2 linked regions of the Homo sapiens genome follow. The protein of the gene in region 2 purifies or fractionates together with the protein of the main gene of each other region. This does not show direct contact. Each region holds a gene or a part of one and is shown on either strand. Other genes may lie near its edges. The genes, in order: INTU and APMAP.

The links.
Region 1: the proteins of APMAP (region 2) and INTU purify together in Homo sapiens (affinity purification with mass spectrometry; one large-scale study listed by BioGRID and IntAct). This does not show direct contact.

Annotation. Positions count from the first base shown.
Region 1 is NC_000004.12:127,635,635-127,639,456, reverse strand, and holds part of INTU (protein inturned), read right to left. Parts: intron 1-3,822. UniProt on the Homo sapiens protein: Plays a key role in ciliogenesis and embryonic development.
Region 2 is NC_000020.11:24,968,691-24,972,512, reverse strand, and holds part of APMAP (adipocyte plasma membrane-associated protein), read left to right. Parts: intron 1-936; coding exon 937-1,053; intron 1,054-2,141; coding exon 2,142-2,316; intron 2,317-2,852; coding exon 2,853-2,987; intron 2,988-3,428; coding exon 3,429-3,621; intron 3,622-3,822. UniProt on the Homo sapiens protein: Exhibits strong arylesterase activity with beta-naphthyl acetate and phenyl acetate. May play a role in adipocyte differentiation.

The sequences.
Region 1 (3,822 bases), on a different chromosome or scaffold from region 2:
CAATACATATAGATAATCCCCACTCCAGGAGATGAAGTTTAATCCCTCCTCCCCTTGAGTATAGACTTAGTGACTATACTCTTCCAGAGAACAGAGTATGGAAAGAGAAAGATAGTAACTTTCCAGGGAAGAGACCTGGCAGACACTACCTTACATAACCAAGTGATCAAGGTAATGAAAAACAGGAAAGGACTAAGATATTGTTACAGACCAGAGGAGACTAAGCAGACAATACAATATTCTGGATTGAATCCTGGAATAGAAAAAGAACATTAATGGAAGAGTGGTGAAAGCCAAATAAAGTTTGGAGTTTAGTTAACAGAAATGACCAATATTCATGTCTTGTTTTGACAAATGCATAATAGTTGTGTAAGATGTTAACATCAGGGGAAAGTGGGTGAAGGATTTATGGGAAGTCTGTACTATCTTTGGAACTCTTGTGTAAATCTAAACTTACTCAAAAATAAAAAGAAAATTAATGGAAGGAATTAAATCTAGCAGTTTTAATTCAGATCTTTGTAGTACATGGGTCATATTTCAGCACTAATATAAATACGCCTTCAAAATTTTCTAAGACCTTATAGTACAAGCTGCATAATTATTGTGTAAATGTTTTTCAATTTTCTTTCAATGAGTCTTATTTTGTTTATTCTGCTTTGCTTTAAGCAGAATAAGTGTATGTTTATAGCCTGCCAGCAACGTTTTAGGGCATTTTAATTGGTATTCAAGGCCCTAAATGATGTGGTAAACAGGAGTAGAGCCCTTCTTCCCAAAGAAAGACTTGTTAATTTGCAAATAAGCAAGTTCACTTGCATAAGCTGTAACATAAATATATTAAAGAAAATGAACTTCAGATAATGCTAATAATTGTCTCATTCCTGACGTATTCAAAAATATCTAGGTCAACACTACATCTTTTAATACCCCTCTAATAGTTATTTGAATCTCTCAGGTCTTTATTTGCATTAATGCCAGCATTTTTCATCATTTGCAATAGTACAGCAATTTCCTTAACTACCACAAGAAAGGAGTTATAAAACAGCCAGCCCCACTGGCACATTTCCTTAGTTAAGGAAAATAAACACTTGCTACTATTCCAAATCTGTTATAGTATACTTTTTTCTTTTTTTCTTAGTGGGCAAAGCACAATGCACTTTACCGAAGTGGTCAACACATATAGTTATGTGGTGCTAATAGGTATAACAGGACAATTCTAGGAACAGAGAAAAACCACACACAATAAAAACACTGTGACAAATTAATATGGATTCTATCCGGCACTTATTCAGTAAGCACTTGCCTGCCTATGCTTTTCTGTGTTTTCTTTTCTGTGTTCTGTCTACCAACAATATCTGATTTTCACTCTTGATGGTCTTCTGATCATTTACTAAAGGAACACCATGAATTTCAATCATTAACATGTATGCTGGATGATATAGCAGCTTAGGGGTAGGGAGTCTCAGATGAGCTGAAGCTCTTCTTGCTAAGCAACATTAGAATAACTGTTAAGCATGTCAAAGAAGGCAAAGGGATCAGTCAATAAATGCATAACTGTTCATTCACTGCAGGTAATACATTTCTACATCAGGAACACATCTAATAGTGACTTCATTCCCCGGGTCACATTTCCTACCACCTGCCCCCTCAGCTAAACAGGGCATTCCTATGCATCACTAAATTAGTGATACAATCTAACCCTGGCAGGACAAAAGTCATACATCAACAAAACATTTTCTGATAGGACTTTACTGTACTTTTAAAGATGTCAGATGGGACAGAGAATCAAATGGCTGAAATGCAAGTGCCAACACTCAGGAATAAAGACTGCTATAGGACTAGAGTACAGGATGGAGAGATAGTCTAAGAGAGACCAGAAAAGATTCTAGGAGAAGGTAGAACTTAAGTGGGACCTTGAATGATTTTGACAAGTAGAGATAGGAAGAAAGGGTATTTCAAACAGAGACAACAAAGTACATAAAGGTGTAGGTGTGAAAGCAAGTGGTCAATTTGAGAATAAGTGGATAATCATTTTCAATAATGAACAGGGAGATCAATAGAAATGAGACAAGAAAGACTTGGGACAGATCTAAAATTTAAAAATCATCCTAAGGAACCTAGAATTTATTTGGAAGGCCACCAAACTTTTGAGTAGAGTAGAAAAATGATTTAGAACTGTGTTTTAGAAAGCAAACTGGCAGTGGTATGGAAGAAAGACCACAGACAGGAGAAATCAGAAGCATGCAGATTAGTTAGGAGGCAACTCCACTGGTGCATGGGAAACAGGCAAGAGGCAAGAGGCAACCTTTTAAGTAAGGCAGTGCCTGTGAGAATGGAGAAGAGAAAACCAGAGAAGGAAGTCAATAGTACTGGAGACATCAGATCTGAAGACAAGAGTAAGGAGATAATGATGTCAGTAAATGAGATGGGTAGCCTTAGAGGAGAAATGGAAGACAATGAATTATCTTCACACACTGAGCTGGAAGTAGAGATGACAGCAGGGTAATACCATTTTTCATCATAAACCTAGTTATATACCATGTGCCTTTTTAATCTGTATTAAATTAAAAGTAAAAAGGAGTCAGGGTTCAGAGCAGAAGAAAAAGTAGGAAATATTATCCTAAATTGGATGTTAACAGTATGGCATCATGAGTCTAAATGAAATATTTTGATTCTTCACAACTAGTATGTTCCCATGTTAAAAATTCAAGAAAGAGAGGAAAGTCAGCATTTCTACACATCATTGAGTTGGGGATATGATGTAACTCTGGCAGAACAAAAATCACAGACCAGCAAAATATTTTGTGTTAGGGCTTTGCTGTACAGATTTTTTTTTTTTTTTTTTTGAGATGGTGTGTCTCACTTTGTCACCCAGGCTGCAATGCAATGGTGCGATCTCGGCTCACTGCAACCTCCGCCTTCTGTGTTCAAGTGATTCTCTTGGCTCAGCCTCCCGAGTAGCTGGAATTACAGGTGGACACCACCATGCCCGGCTAATTTTTTGTATCTTTAGTAGAGATGGGGTTTCACCATATTGGCCAGGCTGGTCTCGAACTCGTGACCTCAGGTGATCTGCCCGCCTCGGCCTTCCAAAGTGCTGGGATTACAGGTGTGAGCCCAGCTCAGAATAGGTCTTTAGTGTACAATGGTGATAGGGCTTCACTGTACCAAAAAAAAGAACTTTTTTTTTCTTCAGACAAAATTTTGCTGTCACCCAGACTGGGGTGCAATGGTGTGATCACAGCTCACTGCAACCTTGAAACCCTGAGCTTAAGTGATCCTCCCGCCTCAGCCTCCCAAGTTGCAGGACTATAGGCACATACCATCATGCCTGGCTAATTTTTTTATTTTTTATTTTAGAGATGGGGGTCTCACTATGTTTCCGAGGCTGGTTTCTGACTCCTGGTGTCAAGCAATGCTCCTGCGTTGGCTCCCAAAAGCAGGATTACAGGTATGAGCCACCATACCTAGCCGAGAGATGAACTATTAATGGGGGCAACAACATGGATGAATCTCAAAGTAATTATGCTGAATAAAAGAAGGCAGACAAAAAAGAACATTCATACTGCACAATTCCATCTTTATGAAACTTTAGAAACTACAAACTCCTATAGAGTGACAAAAAGCAGATAAATGGTTATCAGGAGAGGCATAAATGGACTTAAGTAGGTACATGGGGAGACTCTTAGGCGAGATGGATATGTTCATTTTCTTGACAGACGTATACATGTTAAAACATCAAATTGTACATTAAAAATATGTGCAGTTTTTTGTATATAAATTATCCTTCAATGAAGCTATTTTTAAAGTCCCAGAAAAAAATTT
Region 2 (3,822 bases):
ACAGTGAACTCCCTGCAGTAAGCCCCTGCGGTGAGCACCCCACAGTGACCACCCTGCAATAACACCCTGCAATAAGCGCCTGCAGTGAGCACTCCACTTGAACACCCTGCAGTAAGCACCTGCAGTGAGTACCTCACAGTGAACACCCTGCAATAAGCACCTGCAGTGAGCACCCCACAGTGAACATCTTGCAATAAGCCCCTGTGGTGAGCACCCCACAGTGAACACCCTGCAATAACACCCTGCAATAAGCACCTGCAGTGAGCACTCCACTTGAACACCCTGCAGTAAGCACCTGCAGTGAGTACCTCACAGTGAACACCCTGCAATAAGCACCTGCAGTGAGCACCCCACAGTGAACACCTTGCAATAAGCACCTGCAATGAGCACCCCACAGTGAACACCCTGCAATAACCACCTGCAGTGAGCACCCCACAGTGAACACCCTACAATAAGCACCTGCAGTGAGCACTCTACACAAACACCCTGCAGTAAGCACCTGTAGTGAGCACCCCACAGTGAACACCCTGCAGTAAGCACCTGCAGTGAGCACCCTGCAATAAGCACCTGCAGTGAGTACCCCACAGTGAACACCCTGCAATAAGCACCTGCAGTGAGCACCTCACAGTGAACACCCTGCAATAAGCAACTGTAGTGAGCACCCTGCAATAAGCACCTGCAGTGAACACCCCACAGTGAACACCCTGCAGTAAGCACCTACAGTAAGCACCCTGCAGTGAGCACCCCACAATGAACACCTTGCAATAAGCACCTGCAGTGAGCACCTGCAGGGCAGTTGTAGCTCTAATGCCATGGTCTTGTCTTGTTCTGTACAGCATGATGTATGGGAAGGGATGGATGAGATGCTTGGATACTGAGAACAGCACATGTAGAATCCGGGACCAGCTACCAATCCCCATCTGTTTGTTTTTCTAGAAACCCGAGATGATGAGCCTGTGTGTGGGAGACCCCTGGGTATCCGTGCAGGGCCCAATGGGACTCTCTTTGTGGCCGATGCATACAAGGGACTATTTGAAGTAAATCCCTGGAAACGTATGTGACAATATCTCGTTTCCTTCTATGAAGATTTTAGATCTTTTAAACAATATATGTATGTGTAGACTTAATAGGATTTGTTAGCAACAGTCTACTAAAGACTCTGATATTTCTTATTCACTGAACAGTACTGAAAACATTGCCTGCAAAAGTCAGCTAGTTTTAAACACCAGAAAACTCCCTACCCATGATTCCATTTGGTCCGTATCCTAATTTCCTCCTAGTATTTATATTTTAGCCACAGGGTCTCAAAAGGACTTATTTTGAGGAAGTTAGACCTCTTTCTGTCTTGATTTTTCTGTGTGTCTCTCTGCGTCTTGTCTATTTGTTTTCTCTCTTTCTTCTCTGTGGCCCTCCCCTTTGTCTCTTCCTTTCTGTTTTCTCCTGTAGTTCCTCCTCTTCTCTCCCCTGATTGCTCATGAGTCCCCTTGATCAGGCTGTAATACGTGCTGTGTGTCTCAGTGGAGGTTCCTGCTGGGGAGGAGTCCGTTGTCTTGTGCGTGGGGGCCCGAACATAGGCCCTGCAGCCCAGCTGCTTGGGGGCATTCCACTCTGCTGGCCACCAGCTGTGACTGCAGGTCCCTTAGTTGCTCTCTGCCCAGCTTCCTCATCAAATTGGGGTCATAGTAGCCCTGCCTGTGGGATTGTTGCGAGGGTTTAAAGGCGATCACACCTCGAGAGTGCTTAGCACTCAATCCATGTTCTTTCTATTATTTTTCAAAACTTACTACTACTTTTCTTTTCTAAAAGGAGATGAGTAGAATGTCATATTTCTCTCAAATAGAACTAACAAATAGAACTGAAGCCTGCCTAACACTTGCAGTAGATGTTATCAAGTCAGTTGGCCTTAGTAAAAGAAGGAATTCCTCATCCTTATAGAAAAGATTCTGCCTTTAATGAAATTAGTCTAAAAAAATCATTTAACACCTAATACTGTTTTTACTATAAGAAGGAATAAATCTTCTGACAAATGACATGGAGAAGTTTCAGTTTTTCTTTTTAAATCAGTTAGGTTGGTTAATATTTTGCAATTATTGAGAAGTTCCTAGTTCAAGTCAATCTTTTTCTTTCTTTTTAAACTTCAGGTGAAGTGAAACTGCTGCTGTCCTCCGAGACACCCATTGAGGGGAAGAACATGTCCTTTGTGAATGATCTTACAGTCACTCAGGATGGGAGGAAGATTTATTTCACCGATTCTAGCAGCAAATGGCAAAGACGAGACTACCTGCTTCTGGTGATGGAGGGCACAGATGACGGGCGGTGAGGCCTTGCTCCAGGTCTCCCATTTGTTGAGTTCACCAGCCAGGCCAGTTGCTTCAGCAGAGCCTGTTACTTCTAGGGACCAAGGGAGTATTTCCAGCATCATATTTCAGCTTCTAGGACAGGACCTTAGTGGCTTCTGGAGGCAGGTGATGGATGTCACAAAATGGAACAAGGTGCTTTCGTTTTCTCTGAGGAAATAAAACAGGCCAGTCCGTCTGAGGGTGCAAGTCTAGGCAGTCGAGAGAGACCCCGGAGGCAGGCCTGGGCTTTGGGTTGCCTCTCTGAGGGGTATTCCTGTCCAGCTCCCAGGTGAGCAAGATAACTGACCTTGGGGTTCCCTGGAGGGGACACTGGATCTGCTGTGGATGGGGAAGGGCCCCCAGGGGCCAGCCTCGAATCAAGTTTGAGCAGGGCACCCAGGGCCTGTTGCTCCGGGGTGAGGCGGAGTCACCTTCTTCAGGCCCATACCCTGAAGGCCCAGAGTGGGAGCCAGGGATTCTCCCCCATAACCCTCTGCTTTTGGTGTTCCACAGCCTGCTGGAGTATGATACTGTGACCAGGGAAGTAAAAGTTTTATTGGACCAGCTGCGGTTCCCGAATGGAGTCCAGCTGTCTCCTGCAGAAGACTTTGTCCTGGTGGCAGAAACAACCATGGCCAGGATACGAAGGTGTGTGTGGGATTAGCTGAGCCATCAGTTACTGGCCAGAGCGCATCATGGCCGGGGTGGGGTGGGCATGGAAATGGGATCGACAGAAATCAGAGGCAGCAGCGCACCTTCTGCATGGCATGTTAAAGAAAATTCAAGGGTGCGCTTTCTTTCTCCCATTGCGAGTCGCAGTCCGGAAGAGTGTCTTAAGGCTGACTGGTGCAGCCCGGGCCCCATTCCCCTGCTGGCAGGGCCTTGGTCCTCCCCTGACCTACTTCCCCTCTGTTCATACTGGGCCCTGTGCACAAAGGTTTCTTCTCAGCAGCTGAGCCTTTGTTCATGATGGTCATAGAGCACTTTCCATATATATATTTGGACCAAGACCAGTTTGGTGCTTGGCTAAAATTTTTTTTCTGAAATTGAGGGGCTATGGTTCACTCTCTGCTTGGGTGAATTTTTCAGAGTCTACGTTTCTGGCCTGATGAAGGGCGGGGCTGATCTGTTTGTGGAGAACATGCCTGGATTTCCAGACAACATCCGGCCCAGCAGCTCTGGGGGGTACTGGGTGGGCATGTCGACCATCCGCCCTAACCCTGGGTTTTCCATGCTGGATTTCTTATCTGAGAGACCCTGGATTAAAAGGATGATTTTTAAGGTAACTGTGAAAACTGTTATTCCAAGAAAGAAAATGGAAATGAATTGAATCATATTTTTTTGACCCTTATAGCTTAAAAATCTAGTTCTGCTTGTAGTATTTGGCTCTGAATGACACTTAGAAACACATTTCATTCTTCATCCTGAAATGCAGATTTAAACATTTGGACCCTTTGGTTCTTATGGTTTTCCTTTTTCTGGG